7 separate regions of the Homo sapiens genome follow, and regions 2, 3, 4, 5, 6 and 7 are each linked to region 1. Evidence: fine-mapped expression QTL. A gene starts in region 1. Each other region holds a variant in brackets. All regions are shown on one strand. Distances are between the middles of the regions. Region 1 holds the start of PLA2G4C (phospholipase A2 group IVC). Region 2 overlaps LIG1 (DNA ligase 1). Region 3 overlaps ZNF114 (zinc finger protein 114). Region 4 holds the start of LIG1-AS1 (LIG1 antisense RNA 1). Region 5 overlaps BSPH1 (binder of sperm protein homolog 1). Region 6 overlaps ZSWIM9 (zinc finger SWIM-type containing 9). Region 7 overlaps LIG1 (DNA ligase 1).

Evidence for each region.
Region 2: its variant is fine-mapped to the expression of PLA2G4C in whole blood (INTERVAL, PIP 0.97).
Region 3: its variant is fine-mapped to the expression of PLA2G4C in left ventricle (GTEx, PIP 0.99).
Region 4: its variant is fine-mapped to the expression of PLA2G4C in pancreas (GTEx, PIP above 0.99).
Region 5: its variant is fine-mapped to the expression of PLA2G4C in left ventricle (GTEx, PIP above 0.99).
Region 6: its variant is fine-mapped to the expression of PLA2G4C in whole blood (Lepik 2017, PIP 0.95).
Region 7: its variant is fine-mapped to the expression of PLA2G4C in whole blood (INTERVAL, PIP above 0.99).

The regions. Positions count from the first base shown.
Region 1 is chr19:48,108,315-48,112,569 of GRCh38, forward strand. It overlaps PLA2G4C (phospholipase A2 group IVC), which reads right to left and starts at 2,503. Exons shown (of 17, transcript NM_003706.3): 1 at 2,173-2,503. RefSeq lists an enhancer at 2,319-2,478.
Region 2 is chr19:48,160,806-48,165,060 of GRCh38, forward strand. LIG1 (DNA ligase 1) reads right to left here. Exons shown (of 28, transcript NM_000234.3): 3 at 1,457-1,546; 4 at 567-702. Among named protein-coding and RNA genes, the nearest start is that of LIG1, 7.4 kb to the right of the region's middle. The variant A/C (reference allele first, on the strand shown) is at 1,755.
Region 3 is chr19:48,285,812-48,290,066 of GRCh38, forward strand. ZNF114 (zinc finger protein 114) reads left to right here. Exons shown (of 6, transcript NM_153608.4): 6 at 1-1,797. The coding sequence ends at 1,067. Among named protein-coding and RNA genes, the nearest start is that of ZNF114-AS1, 16 kb to the left of the region's middle. The variant G/A (reference allele first, on the strand shown) is at 2,466.
Region 4 is chr19:48,145,462-48,149,716 of GRCh38, forward strand. The region is part of intron 9 of LIG1 (DNA ligase 1); the gene reads right to left. It overlaps LIG1-AS1 (LIG1 antisense RNA 1), which reads left to right and starts at 396. Exons shown (of 3, transcript XR_007067281.1): 1 at 396-421; 2 at 507-657. The variant C/T (reference allele first, on the strand shown) is at 2,472.
Region 5 is chr19:47,982,095-47,986,349 of GRCh38, forward strand. All of the region lies in intron 1 of BSPH1 (binder of sperm protein homolog 1), which reads right to left. Among named protein-coding and RNA genes, the nearest start is that of BSPH1, 7.9 kb to the right of the region's middle. The variant G/A (reference allele first, on the strand shown) is at 2,005.
Region 6 is chr19:48,184,152-48,188,406 of GRCh38, forward strand. All of the region lies in intron 3 of ZSWIM9 (zinc finger SWIM-type containing 9), which reads left to right. Among named protein-coding and RNA genes, the nearest start is that of ZSWIM9, 16 kb to the left of the region's middle. RefSeq lists an enhancer at 2,592-2,651 and a silencer at 4,245-4,255. The variant TTTTG/T (reference allele first, on the strand shown) is at 2,140.
Region 7 is chr19:48,130,618-48,134,872 of GRCh38, forward strand. It overlaps LIG1 (DNA ligase 1), which reads right to left. Exons shown (of 28, transcript NM_000234.3): 17 at 3,364-3,449; 18 at 2,365-2,480; 19 at 459-554. Among named protein-coding and RNA genes, the nearest start is that of LIG1-AS1, 13 kb to the right of the region's middle. The variant CT/C (reference allele first, on the strand shown) is at 1,929.

The sequences.
Region 1 (4,255 bases):
TGTAGAGATTGAGGTCTCACTATGTTGCCCAGGCTGGTCTCATTCTCCCGGGCTCATGCAATCCTCCTGCCTCAGCCTCCCAAGAAGTGGGGATTACAGGTGTTAGCTACCACACCCCACTAAAAAGCTGAGTTCTGTGTTTCACGACAGTGATATTATTTATAGAAGTAGCTGGGGAAGTTATAAATCATGCGACCCCTGGTTACGTGACTCTGGAGCACATATAGAAAAGGAAGCTAAGGGATGGCAGGTCATTCTTCAACCCACGACTGTTCTTTAGCAAAGTTCCAGCACCTTCATGATTCTAACCTTGTCTTATGAATGTGACTTCAGGCCAGGCACAGTGGCTCATGGCTGTAATCCCAGCACCTTAAGAGGCCGAGGTGGGAGGATCACTTGAGGTCAGGAGTTGGAGACCAGCCTGGCCAACATGGTGAAACCTTATCTCTACTAAAAGTACAAAAGTCACCTGGGCATGATGGCGGGCGCCTGTAATCCCAGCTACTCAGGAGGCTGAGGGAGGAGAATCACTTGAACTCAGGAGGTGGAGGTGCCAGTGAGCAGAGATCATGCCATTGCACTCCAGTCTGGGCAACAAGAGTGAAACTCTGTCTCAAAACTAAATAAATAAATAAAAAGTAAATGAATGTGGCTTCAATCTCTCAACAAGGACTGGGGGTCAGTTTTCTTTGTCTCAAAGTTTAACTATGAATTAAATTCCTCTCATGGTAATTTTGGCCTCTGCACTAGAATAAGAAAAAAAAATCTAGCCTGTGAGGTTAGAAACAAGATGGTCAGTCATGTTAGCTTTCTCTCATTACTTACATTTCTGCGAAGGCAGTTTCAAGACCCCCCTTATGAAATTAATCAGCTTCCCCCCACCACCTCCAAATTCATATGTTGGACTTGTAACCCCCAGAACCTCAGAATGTGACTGTATTTGGACATAGGATTCTTTTTCGTTGTTTGCTTTTTGAGACAGGGTCTTGCTTTGTCACCCAGGCTGGAGTGCAGTGGTGTGATCGTGGCTCACTGCAGCCTCAGCCTCCTGGGCTCAAGCGAGCCTCTCACCTCAGCCTCCCGAGTAGCTGGAAGTGCAGGTACATGCTACCATCTCCAGCTAAATTTTTTATGTTTTGTAGAGATCAGGTCTTGTTATGTCACCCAGGCTGGTCTTGAACTCCTAGGCTCAAGAGAGCTTTCCACCTTGGCTTCCCAAAACGCTGGGATTATAGGCATGAGTCATCGCACTCGGCCAGACATAGGCTCTTAAAGGGGTGACTAAGTTAAAGTGGGGTCCTGAGGGTGGCCTGGAATTTGGTTTGATTGGTTTATTTTATTTTATTTTTTTTTGAGATGGAGTCTCGCTTTGTGCCCTAGGCTGGAGTGCAGTGGCGCAGTCTCGGCTCACTGCAAGCTCCGCCTTCCGGGCTCACGCCATTCTCCTGCCTCAGCCTCCGGAGTAGCTGGGACTACAGGCGCCCGCCACCACGCCCAGCTAATTTTTTGTATTTTTAGTTGAGACGGGGTTTCACTGTGTTAGCCAGGATGATCTCGATCTCCTGACCTCAGGATCCGCCCGCCTCGTCTTCCCAAAGGGCTGGGATTACAGGCGTGAGCCACCGCGCCCAGCCTGATTGGTTTTATAAGGAGAGATTAGGGCCTCTGCAAGAGGCTTCAGGAGAAACCAACCCTGCCAACACCTTGATCTTGGACTTCTAGCTTCCAGAAGTGTTAGAAAATAAATTCCTAGCCGGGCGCGGTGGCTCACGCCTGTAATCCCAGCACTTTGGAAGGCCGAGTGGGGTGGATCACGAGTTCAGGAGTTTGAGACCAGCCTGGCCAACATGGTGAAACCCCATCTCTACTAAAAATACAAAAATTAGCCGGGTGTGGTGGTGTGCGCCTGTAATCCCAGCTACTCGGGAGGTTGAGGCAGGAGAATCGCTTGAACCCCGGAGGCGGAGCTTGCCGTGAGCCGAGATCGCGTCACTGCACTCCAGCCTAGGCGACAGAGCGAGATGCTGTCTCAAAAAAAAATAAATAAATAAATAAAATAAAATAAAATAAAAAAGAAAAAGAAATCCTGTTATTTAATTGCACCCAATCCCTGGTACTTGGTTATGGCCGCCCCAGCGGGATGAAACAGCCCTCCCTGCCCCCACGGCTTGCCTGAGCCTGGGTCTGGGGCGTGTGCGCATGCGCGGTGGAGCTTGTGCTCCGGAATCCGGTGCGGAGGCTTGGGCTCCCTGCGCTTAGCGGTGTAGTCGCTGGACAGCTCCTTCAGCCGGAATCTCCGCGGGTGAAGACTGCGGGGATCCTCGGTGCCAAAGCTTCTGTGGTCCTCCTGCTTTCCTTTTCCCCCTGTGGGAGGAGGTCGCGGGCTGGAGGTGTTTCCTCCTGGTCCTGAGCAGGGCCAACCTGGAGGTAAAATGGCCCCTGCGCCTTTAAACAGCCCTCCTCGGCTTGTAGGCCCTGCTTGGTTGCTCCAGCTTTTTCAGCTGTTCCAGAGCTCACCCGGAGCTATTTTCATCCGTGGGATCACGTGGAGGGCTGGGACTTTCCAGGCTTCCTTAGTGATGTCACCCTTCTGTCATTAGGCACCCGAGACCAGTATTCAAAAAAAGAATGTTGTCGTTATATAACTATATTGGAGATAAGTATTCCTCAAAACAGATTAGCTAATCCTCCTATGCATCTGGCTGTCTAATAACCATCATATATAATATCATACTCAAATACCCAGAAAAAGAAATATTGAGGCCAGGCGTGGTGGCTTACGCCTGTAATCCTAGCACTTTGGGAGGCTGAGGCAGGCGGATCATGTGAAGTCAGGAGTTCGAGACCAGCCTGGCCAACATGGTGAAACACCTTCTCTACTAAAAATACAAAAATTAGCTCGGTATGGTGGCGTGTGCCTGTAATCCCAGCTACTACTCGGGAGGCTGAGGCAGGTGCTTCATCCTGGGAGGTGGAGGTTGCAGTGAGCCAGATCCTTAGGGCCAACTCTGGTTCATTTAATGTCCATTTTTAGAAAACCTGTGAGCTCCATTCACAGTGAAGGTTTGAAGCCCAGAAGTGGCCTCCCAACAGGGTACCACATTTCCCAGCACCTTTGCAGCTAGGTGTGGTCATGTGAGCGAGTTATGTGGTCATGTGACCGAGTTCCAGTCAGTGCAATCGGGCATCTGTGGGGAGCACCGCTTCCAAGAGTGGCTCCTAGAAACCTCCCATACTACCCTCCTGCCTACTCTTCCTGAAGCCCAGCACTAAGCGTCATCCCAACTCGATGGGTTTTGAATTTTTTTTTTTTTTTTTTGAGATGGAGTCTTACTCTTTGTCGCCCAGGCTGGTGTGCAGTGGTGCAATCTCGGCTCACTGCAACCTCCGTCTCCTGGGTTCAAGCGATTCTCCTACCTCAGCCTCCCGAGTAGCTGGGAACATAGGCATCTGCCACCACGCCCGGCTAATTATTTTTGTATTTTTAGTAGAGACAGGGTTTCACCATGTTGGCCAGGCTGGCTCGAACTGCTGAACTCAAGTGATCCACCTGCCTCGGCTTCCCAAAGTGCTGGGATTACAGTTGCGAGCCACCGCACCCAGCTTGAATTCTTATTTTTTAAAAATAGATATGAGGCCATAATCCTAGCACTTTGGGAGGCCAAGGCAGGAGTATCACCAATTTTAGAACAGGATTTCACCAGGGGGAAGATGGTCTCCCCTGCTCCCCCTAACGCCAGGCTCACCTCTTCAGTGCCCGCAACTCCAACCATCGCAGGATCTTTTCACTCCTAGACCTGACCATGCCACTGCCCCGCCTGCGGGATAAGGTTCTACACCTCGCAGGAGCTCATGAGGCTCTCCACAGTATAGTTAGTAGTTATAGATGCAGGGTCAAGGAGCTGACAGCATGGACCAAACCCTGGCCCACCACTTCCTAGATAGTGGACCTAGGGAAGGTAACTTACATCCCTGTGCCCCTCAGTGTCCTCACCTGTTAAATGGGGAGAATAAAAGTACCTACCTGGTGGAGCCATCATGAGGGTCACTGAGGAGTGAGGATGACCCTGACTAGCTTCAGCAGAGGGACATGGCGGCCGTGTGTGGCAGATGTGTTCCTGGGGCCCTGCACTGGTGCAGGGAGGAAGAGCCAAGCCCAAAGGAACCATGGTCTCCACACAAAGCCAGTAATGTGGGGATCCCCTGACATACAACATTTACTTTTTTTTTTTGCCTTAAACATTTTATTTGAAAT
Region 2 (4,255 bases), 52 kb after region 1:
CACTGCAGCCTTGAACACCCGGGCTCAAGCGATCCTCCTGCCTCAGCCTCTCAAGGAGATAGCACCACAGGCATGCACCACCACACCTGGCTAATTTTTAAAACATTTTTTTGTAGAGATGGGGTCTCGCTATGTTGCCCAGCCTGGTCTCGAACTCCTGGCCTCAAGTGATCCTCCCACGTTGGCCTCCCAACGTGCTGGGATTACAGACGTAAGCCATTGTGCTGGGCCTTGAGCCCTTGTTTTACCATCAGGCATTATTCTCAGATCTGTATGTAAATCGACTCATTTCATCTTCCCAGTCACCCTATGAGGAAGGTGTTACCAGGAGCTGCATGTTACAGTTGAGGCATCCAAGACCTAACGTGGTGAAGGAGCCCACCCGAGGTCCTAGGGCAGGGGCAATTAGGACCAGGTTGTGTCTGCCCCCGACACAACCAGGAAACACATCTACCTCTCCCGGGCAATTTCTCCAGAATTCTCCTGAACAGCTGCTGCACTCTGTTCCAAAGGTTAATGGGAATTAGTTTCTTCTGGTAAAAATGGGCAGGGTGATGGGGACCTACCTGGCCTTTAGCAGGGCTAAGGGCTTCATCCTCCTCTTCCCCTTCGCTGCCCAGGACCCGGGCCGCCTTCCTCCCTGGCCTCTTCACCGGAGAGTCACTCTCGGACACCACTCCATTCCACTCCTTCAGTGCCGCCCTGGAAGGTGGGGAAATGGGGGTGTAAAGGGGCGACTACAGCAGGCAGAGTGGGGGCACTGCCCGCAAACACTTTGGTTTCTTTGCTGTTTCCTTCCCTTCCTTTCAAGCATCCAATGAACATTTTCTGGTTGTCTCCTCAGCAAATCTCATCATTTCATCCATCAGTGCATTAATCCACCCGCCCACTCATCCACTCACCCACCCATCACACATCTCTGGAAGTCTCCAGAGTGCCTGCCCTGTGATGGGTGATGCTGAGGAGCAAATGGAGTCCCTGCCTAAGGTTGCCATTGGTCTCCAGCATCTATTGGGATGCCTTTTTTTTTTTTTTTTTGAGATGGAATCTTGCTCTGTCGCCCAGGCTGGAGTGCAGTGGGCCGAGATCACACCATTGCACTCCAGCCTGGGTGAGAGTGAGACTCCATTTCAAAAAAAAAAGAGTACTGTTGTCTTCTACTTAGATGAGACAGCATCAAGACGTGGCCAGTGGCCAGCGGCCAGCTTCTCTGCATTATGGAGAATGTCTGGTTCTAGAACGAGGCCAAGACCTGCAGAAACAGAGACGTACAGACAACTCCGAGGCCCTGGATCCAGCTGTGCCTGCAGCTGCTCTTGCTCTTGGACTTCTGGCCACCTGGCTGAAAAAGTTTTTTGGGCCCCAAGACATTTTGCATTAGGTTTGAACACTTGCAACCAAGACAATCCTGACTGCTAAAGGAAAAAATTCACCATATCCCAGCCCTGTGACATACTTTGGAGGGGGCTCCGTCTCTCTGCTGCTATTGGATGCCTCCTTCTCAGGCTTCTTTGCTTTACCCTCTTTCTTGGGGTGGAAAAATGACCTAGAGGAGCATAAAAGGGGGTAAAAAAAGGAGAATAACAGCACCAATACCCTGCCTATCTATGCTGTATCCTATAACTTCCTTTTTTTTTTTTTTTTTTGAGACAGAGTCTCGCTCTGTAGCCCAGGCTGGAGTGCAATGGCGCAATCTCAGCTCACTGCAAGCTCCGCCTCCTGGGTGCATGCCATTCTCCTGCCTCAGCCTCCCA[A/C]GTAGCTGGAACTACAGGCACCCGCCACCATGCCCAGCTAATTTTTTGTATTTTTAGTAGAGATGGGGTATCACCGTGTTAGCCAGGATGGTCTCGATCTCCTGACCTTGTGATCTGCTTGGCCTCCCAATGTGCTGGGATTACAGGCATAAGCCACCGCGCCCGGCCGCATCCTATAACTTCTAACACCATTTCCATCTCAGCACATAACAGAGAATTTCAAATAAGCCCTTTAACTTAACTGATAAGGAAACTCAGACTCAGACAAAGGAGGCAACACTAATTTTTCTGCCCTAACGCACCTGCAAGATATGATACATCCCAAGTTTTATTCAACAAATATTAACTATGCACTTTTTAAATCTTTTTTTTTTAGACAGACTCTCGCTCTGTTGCCCAGGCTAGAGTGCAATGGTGTGATCTCGGCTCACTGCAACTTCTGCCTCCCAGGTTCAAGCGATTCTCCTGCCTCAGCCTCCCGAGTAGCTGGGATTACAGGTGCCCACCACAACGCCCAGCTAATTTTTTTTGTATTTTTGGTAGACACGGGTTTTCTCCATGTTGGCCAGGCCAGTCTCAAACTCCTGACCTTAGGTGATCCACCCACCCTGGCCTCCCAAAGTGTTGGGATTACAGGCATGTGCCCCCGCGCCCAGCCTAAAAAAATTTTTTTTTTTGAGATGGAGTTTTCACTCTTGTTGCCCAAGGGTGGAGTGCAATGGTGCAATCTCGGCTCACTGCAACCTCGGCCTCCCAGTTTCAAGTGTTTCTCCTGCCTCAGCCTCCTGAGTAGCTGAGATTACAGGTGGCCGCCACCACGCCCGGCTAATTTTTTTCATTTAGTAGAGAAGGGGTTTCACCATGTTGGTCAGGCTGGTCTCGAACTCCTGATCTCAGGTGATCCTCCTGCCTCCCAAAGTGCTGGGATTACAGGTGTGAGCCACTGCGCCCGGCCTACCTAAGCACTTATTATGTGCCAGGGCCTGTTCTGGGCCTGAGGGGTTTGGCAGTGACCCAGACACACGAAGTTCCTGCCTTCAAGAAGCTAACACTCTGGTGAAGGGCAGAAATATTAAGCAAACAACTAAATATAAAATGTTGGGGCCTGGCATGGTGGCTCACACCTGTAATCCCAACACTTTGGGAGGCCGAGGTGGGCGGATCACGAGGTCAGGAGATCAAGACCATCCTGGCTAACACGGTGAAACCCTGCTTCTACTAAAAATACAAAAAAAATTAGCTGGGTGTGGTGGCAGGCGCCTGTAGTCCCAGCTACTCAGGAGGCTGAGGCAGGGGAATGGCCTGAACCTGGGAGGCAGAGCTTACAGTGAGCCAAGATCGCGCCACTGCACTCCAGCCTGGGCGACAGAGCAAGACTCTGTCTCAAAAAAAAAAAAAAAAAAAATGTTGGAAGGCGTGAACATTAAAAAAAAAATCTGGTGAAATCTGAATAATAAAGTATGGAGTTCAGTTAAGAGTAATGTACTGACATTAGTATCTCAGTGGTGAGAAACGGATCATAGTAATGTATGATATTGACAATGGAAACTGGCCAAGGGTATACAGGACCTCTCTGTACTGTCTTTGCAACTTTCCTGTACCTCTAAAATTATTCCAGAATAAGAGGTTTATTTAATCTTCAAAAAGAAAAGGAAAAATCATGCAAAAGCCAGTGGACAGAAAGCAATCGAAGGCACCATCAGCCCTGGAGAGACAATCCCCAGATTCCTCATCACGGGAGAAAAACGGAACCCAGCATTTGTGTAAGCCACTACCGCCCAGGTTTCTGGGATGGATGCCCTTGTCTGGGTCTCTCTACCATCCATTTTTTCCTCCTGGTAACAGCCCCTCCGTTTTCCTCTTGGGATGCTTCTTACCCCACATTCTCTCAGTACACACGATTTGAGTGGGCTGGCCCTTTTGCCTGTGACCAGGGGTGGACACGTGATCCAGGCTGCATCCCTGTGGCTGGTTCAGGGATAGGTATGTGGCCCAGGCTGGGCCAGTGAAACTGGGCTCTAACACCCTCTTTCCAAGGGGACCGCTAAGAGGGGAGAGCCCGCCTGAGGGTGAGGACAACCTCAAGGACAGTAGAGCTGAACAATGGAGAGAGACAGATTCCCAGGGAGGAAGTTTTGGCAACTGGATCGAACCAAGCCTGAGGCTGTTTACTCCAGCAGGTTTCAATGATATAAGTCAAGTCATGCCCTTTCTTGTCTTCCTGAAGCCGGACTGCATTAACACGAGGTTTCTCAACCTAGACACTATTGACATGTTGGGCCTGATGGTTCTGTGTTGTTGGGGGGGCTGTCCTATGAATTGAAGGATGTTTAGCAGCATGCCTGGCTTTTAGCCACTAGATGCCAATGGCAAACCCTCTGTCCCTAGGTTGTAACAACCAAAAATATCTCCAGACACTGGCCGGGCGCCGTGGCTCACGCCTGAAATCCCAGCACTCTGGGAGGCCGAGGTGGGCGGATCACGAGGTCAGGAGTTTGAGA
Region 3 (4,255 bases), 180 kb after region 1:
TTCCTAAAAGAACATTTCCTGAAGCCAACAGAGTGTGTCTCACGAGCATCAGTTCCCAGCACTCCACATTAAGAGAAGACTGGAGATGCCCCAAAACAGAGGAACCACACAGGCAGGGGGTGAATAATGTGAAGCCACCTGCAGTTGCCCCTGAGAAAGATGAATCTCCTGTTAGCATTTGTGAAGATCATGAAATGAGGAACCACTCTAAACCTACCTGCAGGCTTGTGCCTTCACAGGGAGATTCCATAAGACAATGTATCCTAACACGTGACTCAAGTATTTTCAAGTATAATCCTGTCTTAAACGATAGTCAAAAAACACATGAAAACAACGAAGACGATGGAGTCTTGGGGTGGAACATTCAGTGGGTTCCGTGTGGGAGAAAAACAGAGCTGAAATCAAGCACATGGACTGGCAGTCAGAACACTGTGCATCATATACGTGATGAAATTGATACGGGGGCCAACAGGCACCAGCGGAATCCATTTGGAAAAGCTTTCCGTGAAGACGGATCCCTTAGGGCACACAACACTCATGGTCGAGAGAAAATGTATGATTTTACTCAGTGCGAGAACACCTCCAGAAATAACTCAATTCACGCCATGCAGATGCAGTTGTATACCGCAGAGACAAACAAGAAGGATTGTCAAACTGGGGCAACCTCTGCCAACGCTCCAAATTCCGGTTCACACAAGAGTCATTGCACTGGAGAGAAAACCCATAAATGCCCCGAATGTGGGAGAGCCTTTTTTTATCAGTCATTCCTTATGAGACATATGAAAATTCACACTGGAGAGAAACCGTATGAATGTGGGAAATGTGGGAAAGCCTTTAGATATTCCTTACACCTTAATAAACATTTAAGAAAGCATGTTGTGCAGAAGAAGCCCTACGAATGTGAAGAATGTGGGAAAGTCATTCGGGAGTCCTCAAAATATACACATATAAGGAGCCACACTGGAGAGAAACCCTATAAATGTAAGACATGTGGAAAAGACTTTGCAAAGTCGTCAGGACTTAAAAAACATCTTAAGACTCACAAAGATGAGAAGCCCTGTGAATGAAAGGAAGGTGGAAAATTTTTCATTAATTTTCTGACTGTACCAAACATGTGAGGAGGACATATTGGAAGGGAGCTCAAGGGGTTAGCATGAGTGAGAACATCTTCCCTGAACTCTCGTATCTTACAGAAATGTGAAAAAAAACCCTGTGAAGGTAAAGTCTACAGAAAGCCTTTCATCTTCATTCATCTTGAGTAGACATTTGTTCTCACCCTGGAGAGAAACTGCGAATCTAAAAGGAATATGACAAAGCCTTCAGCGTGGTCTCAAATTCATGGTTCATACAAGAACTCACACTGCAGAGACTCCTTACGGAAATAAAAAATGTAGGAAAGACCTGCCGGCCGCGGTGGCTCATGCCTGTAATCCCAGCACTTTGGGAGGCCGAGGCGGGCGGATCACGAGGTCAGGAGATCAAGACCATCCTGGCTAACACGGTGATACCCCGTCTCTACTAAAAATACAAAAAAAATTAGCCAGGCGTGGTGGCAGGTGCCTGTAGTCCCAGCTACTTGGGAGGCTGAGGTAGGAGAATGGTGTAAACCTGGGAGGTGGAGCTTGCAGTGAGCCGAGATGGAGCCACTGCACTCCAGCCTGGGGGAAAGAGCGAGACTCCGTCTCAAAAAAAAAAAAAAGTAGGAAAGACCTCTTTAAACACTTACCACTCATGTTGCATGTGAATCCACATCCTGAAGGGAGGCTACAACTGGAATAAAAATAAGAAAGCTTTCAAGGCCTGGTGCAGTGACTCACACCTGTAATCCTAGCACTTTGGGAGTCCAAGGTGGGGGATTGCTTGAGTCCAGGAGTTTGAGACCAGCCTGGGCAACATGGAGAAACCCCATCTCTACAAAAAAAAAAAAAAAAATGCAAAAATTAACCAGGAGTGGTAGCACATGCCTGTAGTCCCAGCTACCTGGGGAGCTGAGGCAGGAGGATCGCTTGAGCCTGGGAGCTTGAGGCAGCAGTGAGCTGTGTTTGCACCACTGCACTCCACCCTGGGTGACAAAGTGACACCCTGTCTCAAAAAAAAAAAGAAAGCTTTCAGGTCCAGCCTTTCACTTAGGCACAATGAGCGCACAGTAGGACTGAAACACTGTAAATGTTCATGATTTTCCAGTTTTTCCTTTCTAAAAAAAAAAATGCTACAAGATGAAGGATATCCCTCTTTGCACACTCCCAGCTCTGCCACATAAATGTTGGTATATAGCAGGTTCATTATAACTCACATACACGTGGTCTCATTTTCAATGTGAAGCCTTCTTTGAGCCTCATTCAATTTAGACTTGGGATTCATATACTCCATGATACCATTTTTGTCTTATTGGTCACTGTTCAACTGCATTATGGTCAGAGTATGTGGTCTTTCTGGTACCAACTTGGGTTACTTGTTATGACTTT[G/A]TCAGTCTAATGTGCCCTATTCTGTCAACTTCCCTGCCACCTCCATTCTTCTCATCTTCTTTACTAAGGGCACATAGATTCACTTTCCACAATGAGCACTATTTAATGTCTTATTTTTATTTTTATTTTATTTATGTATGTATTTATTTTGAGACAGAGTCTTGCTCTGTCACCCAGGCTGGAGAGCAGTGGGGCAATCTCGACTTACTGCAACCTCTGCCTCCTGGGCTCAAGTGATTCTCCTGCCTCACCCTCCCGAGTAGCTGGGATTACAGACACCCACCACCACGCCCAGCTAATTTTTCTATTTTTAGTAGAGACGAGATTTCACCACGCTGGCCAGGCTGGTCTCAAACTCCTGACCTCAAGTGACCTGCCTGCCTTGGCCTCCCAAAGTGCTGGGATTACAGGCATAAGCCACTGTGCCCGGCCTCTTTTCAATCTTTTAAAAGTTGGGAAACGGCCGGGCATGTTGGCTCATGCCTGTCACCCCAGCACTTTGGGAGGCCAAGGTGGGCGGATCGCCTGAGGTGAGGAGTTCGAGACCAGCCTGACCAACATGGAGAAACCCCATCTCTACTAAAAATATAAAATTAGCCAGGTGTGGTGGCTCACGCCTGTAATCCCAACTACTCAGGAGGCTGAGGCAGGAGAATTGCTTGCATCTGGGAGGCGGAGGTTGCGGTGAGCCGAGATTGTGCCATTGCACTCCAGCCTGGGCAACAAGAGTGAAACTTATCTCAAAAAAAGTAAAAATAAAAATAATAAAAAATAAAAGTTGGGAAATATGACTACCTGAAAATGCATGAAAATGTACATATACATTTTTTTTTTCGAGATGGAGTTTTGTTCTTGTTGCCCAAGCTGGAGTGCAGTGGCGTGATCTCCGCTTACTGCAACCTCTGCCTCCCAGGTTCAAGTGATTCTCCTGCCTCAGCCTCCTGAGTAGCTGAGATTACAGGCACCTGCCACCACGACATTTCAAAGTTAATAAAGTGATCACCCTTATACCCACCATCCAAGCCCGTAAACAGCTCATCATTAAACACCAGGCAATTCACGTCTGTGCCTCACAGACGACATCTCCAGCCCCAAGAGGAAACCGCCATGGTTCATTTTGTATCATTCGCCCCCCTCGCTCATCTTTATGTTTGCAGCTATGCAGAAATCCCCAAATACCCTGTTTTCTAGTTTCGATGATGTTTATGCTGCGTATGATGGCATGGCATAGAATATTTCTTTGTGCCTTGCTTCTTTCAGGAAAAGAAAAGCTAAGCAGGTAGGGTGCAGGTGGCATTCATTCTTTCTTAGTTATATTCATTCCAGAGACCCTGGATCTGTATCTCACTTTAGAGATTATAAACATGCTGCTAACACCAATTTTGCAAAGCCCTCCCAATGAGCATTTTATGAAAGTCATTCTTGGCCGGGCGTGGTGGCTCACGCCTGTAATCCCAGCACTTTGGGAGGCCGAGGCAGGTGGATCACTTGAGGTCAGGGTTCAAGACCAGCCTGGCCAATGTGGTGAAACCCCGTCTCTACTAAAAATACAAAAATTAGTCAGGCATGGTGGCATGCACCTGTAGTCCCAGCTACTCAGGAGGCTGAGGCAGGAGAATTATTTGAGCCCAAGAGGCGGAGGTTGCAGTGAGCCGAGATCGTGCCACTGCACTCCAGCCTGGGCAACAGACAGAGTGAGACTCTGTCTCAAAAAAAAAAAAAATAGGCCGGGCGCGGTGGCTCATGCCTGTAATCCCAGCACTTTGGGAGGCCGGGGTGGGTGGATCACT
Region 4 (4,255 bases), 37 kb after region 1:
AGGCCTACATCTGTACCAAAATGGGGACAAGGGTTGGGGGGGAGAAAGAGACCTCAGGATATTTTTCAGCTCTTCAGCTGATTCTGATGCTCACACAGGGCATGGATGGCCAAGACAGATAGTGCCACTGCAGGGCTGTGCATGGCCTTTGGTATGAACTTGGGGTTTAACAAGCGGTGGCCGGCATTACAATGAGGCAGCAGAGTGTGGTGGGCAGGGGAGTCTAGAGCCAGTCAGCCTGGCTAGAACCACAATGCTGCCACTCCCCACCTGTGTGGCCTGAGCATGGCATTAAAAACAAATAAGAATAGTAGCAGCAGTTACCGTGACAACATGCTGGTCATAATCAAGGCCAGACCCTGGGCTAAGTGTTTCACATCCTCAGAAGAGAGACACAGAAAGGCTAAGTCACTTCCTCAAGGTCACACAGCTGAGAGAGGTGGAGCTGGGATTCCTAGCCAGTCCTCAATACTGTCCCACCTCCCCGCTTTACTTTTCTCACCCAGGAAACCAGGATAACAACAGAATCTACTCCCAGCAGTGTTGTGAGGATTTGGAGCATTGCGTCAGGGAAAGCCCGTTGCTGAGTGCCTGGCACGTGGGGAAGAGTGGGTGGAAGAACATGCTTCCTCTCATCACTGTGCCCCCATCTGAGAGGTGAGGAAATTGGAGAGTGGGAAAGTTTGCCTGTCTCTTGGAGGCAGCCATTGGAGACAGAGGGGAAGTGACCAGGCTAGGAATGGTGCAAGAAAAGCAGTCATGCCTGGCGTGGTGGCTCACGCCTGTAATCCCAGCACTTTGGGAGGCCGAGGCAGGCAGATCACTGAGGTCGGGAGTTTGAGACCAACCTGGCCAACATGGAGAAATTAAAGGGGTTTGGAATAATCCCTGCTGTTCAGCAGAAAGGACAGGTGGGTTAAAAAGTATGACGCAGTGAGTCCAAAATCTCTTTGATGTCATGCCTCTACAAATGAAACAGATAACGACAAGAAATTCTTTCAGCTTTAACATTTCATGATTAAAGTTTAAGTCTAACAAAAAAGTGTCTGTCTCTATTAAAAATACAAAAGTAGCCGGGCATGGTGGCGCATGCCTGTAATCCCAGCTACCTGGGAGGCTGAGGCAGGAGAATCACTTGAACCCGGGAGGTGGAGGTCGCGGTGAGCTGAAATCGTGCCACTGCACTCCAGCCTGGGCAGCAAGAGCAAAACTCCGTCTCAAAAGAAAGAAAAGCAGTCGTAGTATCACTTGAAATAGAAAACAGAACTTTATATACAGTAGGACACTGATTTTATTTGGAAAACATATTTATAAATACACAAACACGGACACACACTCAGGAGGCACGATATGGCAATGGGGAAGAAATAACTGCTAGGAATCAAAAACATTCCTTAGGGTCCCAGGCCTGGCCCTACCCCCACCTCCCTGTGTGACCTGGCGAGGCCCGACCTAACCTCTCTGGGCTAATCATGTCAATGTGTGTAAAATGGCTAAAGTGCTCCCTTCCTCCACAGGAATACTGCAGAGAGGACGTTAACGTGCTATTTAACCTCCTTGATAAGGTCTCAATTGGGGGTACAAAATTGATGTCAAGAATCCTCCGAACACTTTTTTGTTAGACTTAAACTGTAATCATGAAATGTTAAAGCTGAAAGAATTTCTTGTCGTTATCTGTTTCATTTGTAGAGGCGTGACATCAAAGAGATTTTGGACTCACTGCGTCATACTTTTTAACCCACCTGTCCTTTCTGCTGAACAGCAGGGATTATTCCAAACCCCTTTTCCGTTAATTTTTTTTTAGCTTTCAGGACATCAAGAATTCAAGAGGGGATGAAGTCCACGCTGCTAACACCATCACATTGTATTTGAAAACACAATCTTTAGAGGAAAAAAATAACTTCAGATGGATATATGATTATGTAAGAAATCAGGCTGGCCGTGGTGGCTCATGCATGTAATTCCAGCATTCTGGGAGGCTGAGGTGGGAGGATCACTTGAGTCCAGGAGCTCGACCTGGGCAATGTAGTAGGACCCCATCTCTACAAAAAGTAAACAAAAATTAGCCCGGCATGGTGGTACATGCCTGTAGTTCCAGCTACTTGAGAGGCTGAGGTGGGAGGATCCCGAGCCCAGGAGCACCACTGCACTCCAGCCTGGGTAACAGAGCAAGACCCTGTCTTTAAAAAAAAAAACAAGAAACAAAAAACAAAAAACCCAAAAAACCTAAGTTCTATAAAGAGGAATTTTTGTCTGATTTGTTTCCTACCAGATCTCAGGCACCTAAAATCCAGTAGCTAACACGTAATCAGTCCTTTGTAAATACTTACTGAGTAAATAAATGAGTCCATGATTGACTAGTGAAAAAAAAAAATCTGAAAGTGCTCATTTAAATTTCTTTCATGGCAGATTTCCTGGGCTTCCTAGGGGCCAGCCCCAGTGCTGGGAGCTAGGCAAGAAGACTAAGAAGG[C/T]TGGGACCTCCCACAGCCCTGGCTCTGTGGGAAGGAGCTTATGTCTGGTTAGGGAGGCTCTTTACCATGTGACAAGACATAAAAGACAGTCTGACTCAAGTGCTGGGGACACGCACCTCCTCTCACACATGAAGGGAGAGGCACCCGGCTTCCCTAAGCAGGTGCAATAGGAGTTGGGGCCTGAGGGAAGCCTGCTGGGCAGGGTGGGTTAGGGACAGTGTTGTAGGCCGGGGTCAAGCATGTTCAGAAGCAGGGAGGAGGCTGGGTGTGGTGGCTCACGCCTGTAATCCCAGCACTTTGAGAGGCTGAGGCGGCCAGAACACCTGAGATTAGGAGTTCGAGACCAGCCTGGCCAACATGGTGAAACCCGGTCTCTACTAAAAATACAAAAATTAGCCAGGCTTGGTGGCGAGGCACCTGTAATTCTGGCTACTTGGGATGTGGAGGCAGAAGAATCGCTTGAACCTGGGAAGTTGAAGGTGCAATGAGCTGAGATCGTGCCACTGCACTCCAGCCTGGGCAACAGAGTGAGATTCCATCTCAAAAAAAAAAAAAAAAAGCAGGGAGGAATGACAGCACGTGGGGACATGGTGTGCAGAGGGAGCAGGAAAAGGCTGCAGATGCCAGGAGGCTGCAATGTAAGGTGGACAGGGCTGGCTCATGAGGGCACTGGGAAGCCCAGCATATCCTCTATGCTGGGGAGAATCGCAGATGGGTTTTGAGCATGGCAGAGATGGGGGGGTGACCTCATTACTTTATAGGATATTTATCCACCCACGCATCCAATCATCCATTCAGCCAGTCTTCAGTGCGGCCTCCTGTGTGCATGTTAGATGTCGTGGGAATCAGCCCAGACATCTCTTCAAATAATTAACAAAATTACAGTGAAGCAATTAATTGCTTAACAACCTATTCAGTGTCCCACAGCCCCAGCACACTAAGCACATCACGAGGGCTGGGGCAGGGCGGCCGGCTCTCTATGGTTCATCCTCGTGGGCCGCCCAGGGCTGGCAAAGAAGGGGTGTTCAGTGAATTTTAAGGCAGAGTAGACGCGCCTGCAGGCTTCCAGCACATACACTAAATCTGGTGAGTTCAGGCCAGGTGTACTGGCTCACGCCTGTAATCCCAGCACTTTGGGAGGCCGAGGTGGGTGGGTCACCTGAGGCTAGGAGTTCAAGACCAGCCTGACCAATACGGTGAAACTGTGTCTCTACTGAAAATACAAAAATTATCTGGGTGTGGTGGCATGCACCTGTAATCCCAGCTACCTGGGAGAATCGCTTGAACCTGGGAGGTGGAGGCTGTGGTGAGCTGAGACAGCACCACTGCACTGCAGGCTAGGCGACAGAGCAAGACTCTGTCTCAAAAATAAAAAATCTGGTGAGTTCAGAGCCAGAGGAACAGAGAGGTAGGAAGTGAGGCCAGAGAGGGAGGTGGCAGCCAGTGGCCAAATGGGCTTAGATTTTCTCCTGACGGCTCTGGGGAACCCTAGAGGGGCAGAGTCAACTCTGGGTGTTAGAAAGATCCCCCAGGCTCTACGGGGATCAGACTGAGGATGAAAGACTGGAGGCAGGGTCAGAGGGTGGCTGGGGCCACGGTCAGCAAACTCCGACCCTGGACCGTTTCTACAGGTTCTGGGATCTAAGAATGGTTTTGCAACAGGGGCCAAATGTGTCCCATAAAGCCTAAAATATTTACTCTCTGGCTCTTTATAGAAAAGGTTTGCCAAGTCCTGCAAGAGGAGGAAGCCTGAGCTGGGGGTGGGGCTGTCGGAATGCAGAGAA
Region 5 (4,255 bases), 130 kb before region 1:
ATGCTTAATAACCATTAAGATGATGTCAGATAGAAAAGCACAATTTACCAACAAGTAAATTTACAAATGTCATGTTTGGTTAAGAGAACATCCACGTATTATAATGTAATTAGCAGATATCTCTCATATTAAAGCATTATAACTCGACATATTCTGTGTTCATAACTAGTTCATCAAATTTGTGGATTACACTTGAAAGAGCAATGACTTAATTTTTTATTTTTTGAAAAGATTTTTGCAAAAGCAATGATTTTAATTCTGAATTTGTTGTGTATATTTCATTTATTACTGACGATTTTGCTATTTGCTCGTGTTTATTCATTCCACAAGTTTGTTTTTCAGCTAAATTGTCCTGGCTGCCATTGTGGCTTGAAATTAAAACGTTTTTCCTTAGGCACATCTTATTTAAGAAATAGTCATAATGGACCAGCACAATGGTTCACAAGCTTTGTTGCATATTAGAATCACCAGCTGAGTTTTTAAAAACCCAGATCCCTTCCACTTCTGGGTATATATACAAAATAATTGAAAGCAGAGACTCAAACAAATATTTGTAAACCCATGTTCATGGTAGCATTATTCATAATAGCCAAAAGGTGGAAAGAACCCACATGTCCGTGAGCAAATGAGTAAATAAAGAAAATATGGTAGACACATACAATGGAGTATTATTCAGCATTAAAAAGGAACAAAATTTGAATAGATGCCACCACATGGATGCACTTTGAAAATACTAGGTTAAGTAAAATAAGCCAGACACAAAAAGACAAATATTATATGATTCTACTTATATGAGGTAACTAGAATAGTCAAATACATAGAGACAAAAAGCAGAATGGTGGTTGTTAGGAGCTGGAGGGAGGGAGGAATGGGGAGTTATTATTTAATGGGTGCAGAGTTTCAGTTTGGGACAATGAAAAGGCTCTGGAGATAGATTGCACAATTTGAATGCATTGAATGCCACTGAACTGTGCACTGGTTCCAGTATATAGGGAAGATCTCACGATGAAGGGATCTGCATTTATTCAGCCAGTCCATCAACCCACTCATGTAGACAACAAATATGGATTGAATGCCTACTATGTGCCCAGCCTAGTGCTAGGTTCTGGGCTACCCAAAAAGGGAGTGGCTGAAATGGTAGACTCTGGACTACAGAAACCATGAGATTCAGGTGGGAATCCAAGATCAATGGACTCATCAGGAGTTAAGCTTGTCTTTCTCTGAAATATGGGGATTATAATTGTTTCTACTTCCTGGATTTGTTGGGTTCATTCAGTATGCATTCCATAGTGAAACTATTAGGAAATGGATTTTGGTTTTGAGGATCATGATAGGCCTGATTTCATGAATGGGGAGATACAGACGAGTGATTCCAACATAGCCTGTCTGCTAAGCACTATGATCTTAGAACAGGTATCACCAGGTAAGCATCAGAATGCAACATCCCCATATCATAAACACAGTGCACCATCCTCGGTGCTATAAAATTATGAGTCCCCACTCAAACGTCCCACTCTGATTAACACCAGAAATTCTGCCATCCACCTGGTGGATCATTTGTTGTGAATGTTGGGATGTTATGTTTCAAAAAATACCTTGCAAGTACAATGCAACTGCAAAGCAAGTGGACTACAAAATGAAGCCGGTCACTTTGTGAAAGATGCAAGAATGTATGAATTTAATGACAGTGATACAACAAAGTTAAAAAGAGCACATATTGTAACTCCATAAGGGCTTTGAAGAGAAATTTTTTTTTTTTTGACACGGAGTCTCACTCTGTCACCCAGGCTGGAGTGTAGTGGCACGATCTCGGCTCACTGCAACCTCTGCCTCCTGGGTTCCAGGGAGTCTTCTGCCTCTGCCTCCCAAGTAGCTGGGACTACAGGTGTGCACCACCACCTGTATTTTTACTTGGCTAATTCTTGTATTTTTAGTAGAGACAGGGTTTTGCCATGTTGGTCAGGCTGGTCCCAAACTCCTGACCTCAGGTGATCCACCCACCTC[G/A]GCCTCCCAAAGTGCTGGGATTACAGGTGTAAGCCACCATGCCTGGCTTGAAGAAAAAAAAAAAAATATATATATATATATAATATAAATATATATAATATGTATATTATACATAAAATATAAATATATATATTATATATTTTTAAATTCAAAGGATTAAGAAGGGCCCCTAAAAATTAATATAGTCCTAGAATTAGTCTTAGAATACTTATACAAAACTGGCTTTCTTTATGACCCTTTGAGGAAAGTGTAGAATGGAAGAAGACAAAGCTATGCACTGGAAAATCGTAACAATTTTGTCAGGAAAGTCCTGCATCCCAATTCTTTTCATTCTCAAGAATTCACCTTTGGTCATAATTCAAGCTAAATTCTGTTATAATATATAAGGTTTTAAAAATACCCTTATTTGAAATAAAAATGAGTCTCATTTTTTCAGTTAAACCCAAATCGAAATTGTTTTATGCAGCCATAACAAAGAACAAAATCATGTCCTTTTTAGCAACATGGATGCAGCTGGAGGCCATTAGCCTAAGCAAATTAGTGCAGAAACAGAAAACCAAATACCACATGTTCTCACTTATAAGTGGGAACTAAACATTGGGTGCACAGGGACACAAAGATGGGAACAATAGGCACTGGGGATTACAAAAGTGGGGAGGTAAGGAGGGGACCCAGGCTTGGAAACCAACTATTGATGGCCGGGTGCAGTGGCTCATGCCTGTAATCCCAGCACTTTGGGAAGCTGAGGTGGACTGATCATGAGGTCAGGAGTTCAAGACCAGCCTGGCCAACATGATGAAATCCCGTCTCTACTAAAAATTAGCCGGACATGGTGGTGGGCGCCTGTAATCCCAGCTACTCAGGAGGCTGAGGCAGGAGAATCGCTTGAACCTGGGAGGCAGAGGTTGCAGTGAGCCAAGATCGCACCACTGCACTCCAGTCTGGGCAATACAAGACTCTGTCTGAAAAAAAAAAAAAAAGAAAGAAAAAGAAAAAGAAAACTGCCTACTGGGCACTATGTTCATTATTTGGGTAATGGCTTCAATTGAATCCCAAACCTCACCATTTATGCAACATACTCATGTAACAAATCTGCACATGTACCTCCTGCATCTAAAATAAAATTTTTTAAAAGAAAAATCTTTTGAAAGAAGCCAGAGGGGGAAAAATACCTTACCTACAGAGAAGCAAAGATAAGAATTATGTCCAACTTCTTTCCAGAAACCATGAAGATAAGAATGAAGCATTTACAGTGTTGAGAGAAAAAAAAGTCTTCAATCTAGAATTCTGTACCCTGCAAAATTATTCTTCAGAAGTGAAGGAGAAAGAAAGACAAAGATTCTCAGACAAACAAACATTGAGGGAATTTGCTACCAGAAAACCTGCCTTGAAAGAAATGTTAAAAGTTCTTCAGAGATATAAAGAGAGGAAGCACATTAGAAAAAGAGTAAGTAGGCCCGGCATGGTGGCTCACACCTGTAATCCCAGCACTATGGGAGGCCGAGGCGGGCAGATCACCTGAGGTCAGGAGTTCGAGACCAGCCTGGCCAACATGGTGAAACCCTGTCTCTACTAAAAATACAAAAATTAGCTGGGCATGGTGGTGTGCGCCTATAATCCCAGCTACTGAGGCAGCTGAGGCAGGAGAATCACTTGAACCTGGGACGTGGAGGTTGCAGTGAGCTGAGATCACACCACTACACTCCAGCCTGAGTGACAGGGCAAGACTTTGTCTAGAAAAAAAAAAAAGGAAAAGAATAAGTGAATGTAAATAAAATGAAAGCATGTGAAATGTGTTCAGGAGCTTATGAAGTCCCCTGAACCCGATCACTTTTCCAGAGGATGAGCAGTGAATTTCAGCATCGTCAACAGCATATATTGGCATTCTTGCAGTTGCCCGCAGGAGGATATAGTTTATCAGACTTTATTCTTCCAAGCTACGGAGCCCCAGAGGAGGGAGGAGTCTGGGGAAGCTGGTCGAACAGACTAGGGAAAAAAAGCTGCAGTGGCCTCCCTATCGTGGGGAATTGCTGTAGCCTGCTACATGGTAGTCCTACGATCCTAACTTGGCCAAGATTCTTGTTTGGGTTCAAGAGCTGGGTCAGGAGTCTTCCCAAAGTGCTGCACTTGCTGTTCCATTCTATGTTCAATGGAATACAGCACAAGATAGAAGACAAAACTTACGAATCTAGAGAATGTCAGAAGGCCTGGAAGAGCACTGGTGAAGAGCAATAACAATGAATGGGGAGGA
Region 6 (4,255 bases), 76 kb after region 1:
GACAGTTCTAAGGGTGCTGTTTGAATTGGTCAGGGAAGGTCTCTTTAGCAAATGATGGTGAAGCAGAGGAGATGGAACAGAGGCAAGGGACCCTCATTCTGTCATCAGAGGGAAGAGAATTCTAGGCAGAAGGAACAGCCAGTGCAAAGGCCCAGAGGCACGAGCAAGCTTGTGTTGGAGGAACAGTGAGGATGGCTGCTGCTCCATAAGGAATCTCTGCGGCTTTAATCCAACTTCAAGTTTGGGGTGAACTTGAAGTTTAAAGAGGAAAGAAAGATGAGAAAGTAGGGGAAGAACTGGTTTCTCCTCCTGGCTGTGCCTTTGTCTCCCTTGTGTGTGGAAGAGGTCCCAAGGCAGGGTAAAGTCGAGATTCAGCTCTGGCACACTCTTCCTGTCTTCATCTCATGCCCAGTAAGAAGCCCTGATTCAAGCCACCAGCCCAAGCCCAGGCCTCTGTCCCGACATAATAATAATTTTAGCTAATGTTTATCAAGCACTTACTATATGCCAGGCACTACCCTAAGTGCTTTACATACTATAACTCATTTTCATCTCACCTGAGCCCTATGAGGAAATAGTCCACCATTCTCATCCCCATTTTACAGACAAGGAAACTGAAGCACAGAGAAGTCAAGTAACTGGCTCAAAGTCACACAGCTATTTAGTGACAGAGCTGGGCTTCGGACCCACACAGCCTGGATCCAGACCCATGACCTTCACCATGGGGACAAACACACATGCACTTCCTACTCCACTGGTCTTTGCTGATCTAGTAACTCTCCTCCACTACCCACCATGACATAAATAAGCCTCAGCTGTTCTTCCCTGAACCCACCCTCTGCAGGATTGTCCCTGTGCAGAACAGCTCATTCATAGATCAGAGCCTTCCCTGGAAGGGGAGTTGTCTTTTCATTTTGAAGGCTGTCTTGGAATCTCGGCTAAACCACGGTTGGCTCCTGCGTCTGTGTTTTGACCTGCTTTCATACTTTTTTTTTTTTTTTTTTTGAGACGGAGTTTCGCTCTTGTCACCCAGGCTGGAGTGCAATGGCGGAATCTTGGCTCACCGCAACCTCCGCCTCCCGGGTTCAAACGATTCTCCTGCCTCAGCCTCCTGAGTAGCTGGGATTACAGGCATGCGCCACCATGCTAATTTTTGTGTTTTTAGAAGAGACGGGGTTTCTCCATGTTGGTCAGGCTGGTCTTGAACTCCTGACCTCAGGTGATCCCCCCGCCTTGGCCTCCCAAAGTGCTGGGATTACAGGCATGAGCCACCGTGCCCAGCCCCTTAATGCTCTTGAAAGAAAGGAGGAAGAAGTTCTAGGACAGGAGAGACAGATTAGTGAAGCAACATTTAAATATTTACTTTTTGAATATGTCATACATTCACATGGTTCTAAAAAAGGTATGTGGTGAAAAGTCTTATCACATCCTGTCCCCCAGGTCCCCTCCCCTGCAGAGTTATTAGCAGCTTATAAATCATATCTCGCTTTCTATCCTATGGACCAGCACTGCCCGGTGGAACTTTCTACAATGATAGAAATGTTCCTTATCCAGGCTAGGCATGGTTACTCACACCTGTAATCCCAGCACTTTGGGACTCTGAGGCAGATGGATCACCTGATGGCAGGAGTTCGAGACCAGCATGGCCAACATGGCAAAACCTGATCTCTACTAAAAATTCAAAATTAGCCAGGCATGGTGGCAGGTGCCTGTAATCTCAGCTACTCGGGAGGCTGAGGCACAAGAATCGCTTGAACCCAGGAGGCAGAGGTTGCAGTGAGCTGAGATTATGCCACTGTACTCTGGCCTAGGTAACAGAGTGACACTCTTGTCTAAAAAAATAAAAAGAAAGAAAATGGTTCTTATCTGTACTGTCCAATCCAGAGGCCACTGGCCACACATGGCTACAGAATGCTTAATGAGGCCAGTATGACTGAGGAACTGAATTTGTCATTTAATTTATCGAAATGTAAACAACCTAATGTAGCTAGTGGCTTCTGGATTGGACAGCGCAGCTCTGCACATATACAGGTCAATTTGCATGTCTGTATGTTTAACTTTAATTTTTAACTTTATTTCCTCTTTCTGCCCCGCCACCCCCCACCCCCAGCAAGCAGGGCAGCCTAGTGTACACGCTGT[TTTTG/T]TTTGTTTGTTTGTTTGTTCTTTGAGACAGGGTTTCACTCCTGTCACCCAGGCTGGAGTGCAGTGGCACGCTGTTGGCTCACTATAACCTCCACCTCCTGGGCTCAAGTGATTCTCCTGCCTCAGCCTCCTGAGTAACTGGGACTATAGGCATGCACCACCATGCCTGGCTAATTTTTGTATTTTTAGTAGAGACGAGGTTTCACCATGTTGGCCAAGCTGGTCTCAAACTCCTGACCTCAAGTGATCCACTCACCTTGGCCTCCTGAAGTGCTGGGATTACAGGTCGGGGCCACCACACCCGGCCTGTACATGCTGTTTTGCATCTTGCTTTATACGTTGGGGAGTGCCAGATGTCACCATCTTTCGTTCTTCCTCTGGGGCTGGTCAAATCCCCCTGAGAAAACTCCTCTGGCCTCCTGGCGGGGGGTGAAGGCCAGGCTGCCAGGGCCAGGCTGCCAGCTTCTGGGAGCTGCAGGGGCAGAGGCAGGGAGCTGTCAGGCATTCAGCCAGCAAGACGCACTCAGTACCCACTTGGGGTTCAGAATCCCCCTCCCTCATCTTCAGATGGGCCAGATGTCCCCAAAGCCAGCGGCCCCTTTCTGTTTCACCCTGTCTACAGAATAAACCCCCAGTCACTGGGGGTGGGGGAAGAGTAAGGGGAGAGGGGAAACGAGATTTGGAGGTCTAGCTGCTGCTGAAACAGCCCTCAGTTCGTCTTTATTTTGCCTTCTGCAAAACTGGCCTGGTGTTGCCAGCTCCTTTTGAGGACTTTGCTACCGGTTCTCAGCATCCCTCAATTGCTGGCTTAGGATTCATGGGTTTTTAGGGGTGGGGTGGGATTAGCATGTCCAGCTGCTTTCCAGTTTCCAAAGTTCTGTCCCTATCATATTGCCTCTGATTTAAAAAAAAAAAAAAGCCATTTTAAAAAAAAGATGTAATTGAGGTTCAAGAGAGAGTGAAACTAGAGAGGTGTTCAATCCATCACTTTTACACAGAAATTTCACCTTTTTTTCACTTATAAAATCTAATGAAAGAGTTCTATATTATTATGTTAATAATACAGTAGTAATATAACAGTATAATGTAATAATTAATATATTATATTAATTATATATTATAATTATATATTATATTATATTATATATATTATATATTATATATTAATTATATATATTATATATATTATATATTATATTATAATATATTATATTATATTATATATATTATATATTATATTATTATTATATTATATTATATATATTATATATAATATTATATATATTATATATTATATAATATAATATTATATATTATATTAATATTATAATATGTAACGCATAACATGTAATATTGATAATATAATAGGTGCGATGGCTCACACCTGTAATCTCAGCACTTTGGGAGGCCGAAGCGAGAGGATCACTTGAGCCCAGGAGTTCAAGACCAGCCTGGCCAACATAACGAGCACCTGTCTCTACAAAAAATTAAAAAAAAAAAAATTAGGCATGGTGGCATGCATCTGTAGTCCCAGCTACTCAAGAGGCTGAGGCACGAGGGTTGCTTGAGCCCAGGAGCTTCAGGCTGCAGTAAGCTATGATCACACCACTGTACTCCAGCCTTGACAACAGAGTGAGACCCTTTAAATAGATAGATAGATAGATAGATAGATAGATAGATAGATAGATAGATAGACAGACAGACAGCAAGCTTTAAATTTTCATCCCAAGCCTAGGTCAAGCAACAATCAGTCTTTCCACTTCCCAGCAGTCTTCCAAAGGAAGGATTATTTGTAAAAAGTGCCTGCACTTCCTGAGTTGGGTTGCTCTCTTGATCTTTGGAGGGGATCAGACAAGAAGGATGCGCCCAAAGCCACAAGGCATGATTTAAGGGCAAGACTGGGGGGCGACTTCACCCAGGGAGGTGTTAATACCTTTTTTTTTTTTTGAGATGGAGTCTCGCTCTGTCTCCCAGGCTGGAGTGCAGTGGCGCAATCTTGGCTCAGCACGACCTCCATCTCCCAGGTTCAGGTGATTCTTGTGCCTCAGCCTCTTGAGTAGCTGGGACTACAGGCGTGCGCCACCAGGCCTGGCTAATTTTGTGTGTGTGTGTT
Region 7 (4,255 bases), 22 kb after region 1:
GGAACCCAGTGCTGGACAGTGACTCCCAGCTGCAGTCCACGGCGGGGGAGGGGTTGTGGGTGGGAGGTGTCCAGGAAAGTGTTAACTCAAGCTAGAATCCCTTTTCCCTCTTTCTGTCTGGAAGAATGACATCTGTTTGGGAAACTCTAAGGGGACAAGCATTGGCACTAAAAGCCAACCAGCCAAGGACAGCAGGGGATAGAGGTAGCGATAAGCTTGGTTCAGGGGGACATCAGTGCTCAGCCAAGTCGGTGCTGGGGTGCCCACCTCTAGATGTGAGAAAAAATCATATGGGCTTACACCACGCAGGACTGAGTGCTCTGTCATTTGCAGCCAAACGCAACCTGATCTCCTCCCAATAAACCCCGCACTGTGCCACACTGGCCTAGATGGGCCTCAGGCCTTTGCACCCCTGACCACAGACCCTGGCAGAGTGCAAGTGTGTGGCAGACGCCCACCTTGGGGATGCGGCTGATGATGTCCGGGTACTTCCCAGTGTTGTCTTCCTGATTCCTGCTGAAGATCTTCACCTCCCCGCCTTCCAGGGCGTGGATCTGTCACGATGGGAGAAGGGAGGGGAAATCAGCTGAGTCCCCTCATGTGGCCTCAGCTTTCTCTTCTGACCCCACCTGCACTGGTAGAAGGTTCTGGAAGCTCTGGAGGAGGAACTGGTGCAGAGACTTGAGCGAATCATCTCCTCAGTTCCAACAGCACCTCCCAGCCCTGCTCTGGAAGGCCCTACCATCATTTTCTTCTTCATTTCCAATCCCTACACCTCTCCCCATGTAGGCACATGCACCTTGCTGCATGTGGGTGCTGATTTGTTTAAATGTCATTATGCTCTAGATCTCATTCTGATTTTTTTTTGAGGCGGAGTCTCGCCCAGGCTGGAGAGCAGTGGTGCAATCTCTGCTCAATGCAACCTCCACCTCCCGGGTTCAAGAGAGCCTTCCGCCTCAGCCTCCCAAGGAGCTGGGATTACAGGCGCCCACCACCACACCTGGCTAATTTTTGTATTTTTAGTAGAGCCAGGCTGGTCTTGAACTTTCGACCTCAGGTGATCCGCCCACCTTAGCCTCCCAAAGTGCTGGGATTACAGGCGTGAGCCACTGCGCCCAGCCTCTATGTCTATTTATTTTAAGACAGTCCGGTCACAGCCCTTGAGCAGGGCGGCATATATAGCATCTTATATGTTTGTTATTATTTCCAGGAACAGTTGTCAAGAAATCATTGTCACTATCGTAAATCATCTTGTGTCTTTTTTCTCAACACTATTTTGGAGATCCATCTCTGATCCTGTGTCTGTTGGATCCACCCTTTTTTTTTTTTTTTTTTTAAAAGATGGAGTCTCACTCTTATCGTGGAGGCTGTAGTGTAGTGGCACGATCTTGGCTCACTGCACCCTCTGCCTCCTGGGTTCAAGCAATTCTCCTGCCTCAGCCTCCCGAGTAGCTGGGACTACAGGCACACGCCACCACACTGGCTCATTTTTGTGGTTTTAGTAGAGATGGGGTTTCACCATGTTGGCCAGGCTGGTCTCCTCAGGGGTCCACTTCCTGTAACTGCCCCGAGCCCTGTGGCTCCCACCCACTTTGCCTGCTTACCTATCCCCAGGTGAGAAGGCCCCACACTTGCCAGGACAGAAGAGACACAACACATTCTTACAGACCCCAGGACCAAGGACGCCTGAGGCCCTGGATCACAGGACACACATGCACGTCACGGCATGAAGGGGTCATGTAGGCACCTCCCAGAACGGCTGTTAAAATGAACACACCCACCAGCAGCATCAGCGGAGCCCACGTTTCATGAGCTCCCACTATCATCGGTCAGGACTCTGGAGGATTGTAGCTTCGGATAAGCTGGTGAGGTAGTTAAGACCACACCCTAGAGGCCAGGCACGATGGTTCATGCCTGTAATCCCAGCA[CT/C]TTGGGAGGCTGAGGTGGGTGGATCATGAGGTCAAGAGATCGAGACCATCTTGGCCAACATGGTGAAACCTCGTCTCTACTAAAAATACAAAAAATTAGCCGGGCACGGTAGCGGGCGCCTGTAGTCCCAGCTACTTGGGAGGCTGAGGCAGGAGAATCACTTGAAGCCAGGAGGTGGAGGTTACAGTGAGCCAAGATCATGCCAATGCACTCCAGCCTGGATGACAGAGTGAGACTCTGTCTCAAAAAAAAAAAAAAAAAAAAAAAAAAAGAACACACTCACTGCATGGAGGTGGATGCTGAAGCCCAGAGAGATGAGCGAGGGCTCGGCAGTCTGTGGCGCAGGCCGGCTTGAAGCTCAGGCCTCAGTGACCCCACACCCCTGCTCTTTGACGTTTTCCTGTCTGTGGAAGGGACATGTCCCACTCCCCATACCTGTGCCCTCTGCCCGTCATATTTGTATTCGCAGGTGAAAGCTGCCTCCTCAAAGCGTTTCAGGACCTCGCTGATGCCCCGGGTGGGATGGGCCAACATTGGTTTCAGGGGAATCCCTGGGAAAGGAGGAGAGTGAGTTAGAGGAGAGGGAAGGCAATGGATTAGAGGGGGAACATGGAGAGGAGAACTGCTAATGGGCCCCAGGACCATTCTGCTTTCTTGCTATTCAGTCACGAAGCCTCCCACGTTTTAGAAGGGGACCTAGCCTCCCACTGGGGACTACAGCCCCCGGCCTTCCTTCCAGGTGGGAAAGGCCATGTGATTGGAACCCACGCAGCATGTGCAATGTCTGGCTCACATCCTTGCAAGGAATCTGGTTGCCTCCCCTCCCTCCTCTGCGTCCCTCCTCCCACAATTAGAACAGGGAAGTGAGCCACATTTGATCACAGACATTGGGGTGACAACCTTTGGAGGGCAGAGGGACACAGGAACCTGGGTCCCCGGGTCATCCCTGGGACACAGCTGCACACCTGTACCTTCCCTGGCCACCTCCCTTGCTCTGGACACTTCTGTGTGACAGAAAGAAATTCTATCTGGCCTGACCCACTGCCTTCTGGCCCATTTTTATTTACTTATTTATTGTCTCACTCTGTCGCCCAGCTGGAGTGCAGTAGCGCGATGACGGCTCACTGCAGCCTTGAACTCCTGGGCTCAAGCGATCCTCCCACCTCAGCCTCCCGAGTAGCTGGGATCACAGGCACACGCCACCACGCCCGGCTCCTGTTTATCACAGCAGTGTCACCTACACCCTATCTACTCCACAAGGGGAAATTCCAAGGAGAAAAGCAGTGGGTTTCAGCACCAGGGAGGAGCATTTGGTTTTGGTGGGGGAGAGGACTCTGCAAGTTCTGAGAGGGGCGCCTACGATGGCCACCCTCACGCCGACTCAGGAGGGAGCAGGGCTGCTGCCAGGCTGGTGAGCGCCCCTGGGGCCTGTACCTGGGCTCAGCTTGCAGTGCTCCGGGAGACGTTCCAGGCCGTGCTCCAGCAGCACGGGGATAATTCGGTCCAGGTCGGGAACCTCGCTGGGGTGGCGGGTGAGAACAAGATAGGGGAAGCCTTTCTAGAACTCACACAGTTTGGAAAGAGAGCTCGGCCTGCTCCCAGAAGCCTGGGCTCCTGGATGCCTCTGCCCACTGAGTCACCACCTGCCAAGCTCCTCTTGCCACCCTGTCTCTGTGCTCTCCCTTCGTGTCACTATCTGTTGCTTTGTCTCCCTTAGTCTGGCCTTGCCCCTGTTCCCTATCTGTCACCACGAGACCAGCGATTCTCTACTCGGCTACACAGGAGACCACTCAAGAATACAGTTTTTAAAAAAAGGTTTTTGGCCGGGCATGGTGGCTCATGCCTACAGGCATGTAATCCCAGCACTTTGGGAGGCCGAGGTGGGTGCATCACTTGAGCCCAGGAGTTCAAGACCAGCCTAGCCAACATGGTGAAATCCCATCTTTACTAAAAATATAAAAGTTAGCTGGGGGTGGTGGCACGCGCCTGTAGTCCCAGCTACTCAGGAGACTGAGGCAGGAGAATCACTTGAACCCTGGAGGCGGAAGTTGCAGTGAGCTGAGATTGTGCTGCTGCACTCCAGCCTGGATGACAGGGCGAGACTCCGTCTCAAACAAAATAAAAATAGACAAAGGTTTTCAAGGCTAGGTTCCACCTACAAAGATTTTGATGTAGCTGGTGTGGGGTAGGCCTGAGGTCAGCAGCTGATAGAGCCCCACGTGCAGGCAGAGTTGAGCTTGCTGCCCGGGCCTGTTCACCACTCTCTGCTCAGCACCCAGTGGGGGGCCCTGGCCCAGAGCAGGTGCTCTGAGGCCATCTGTGGAAC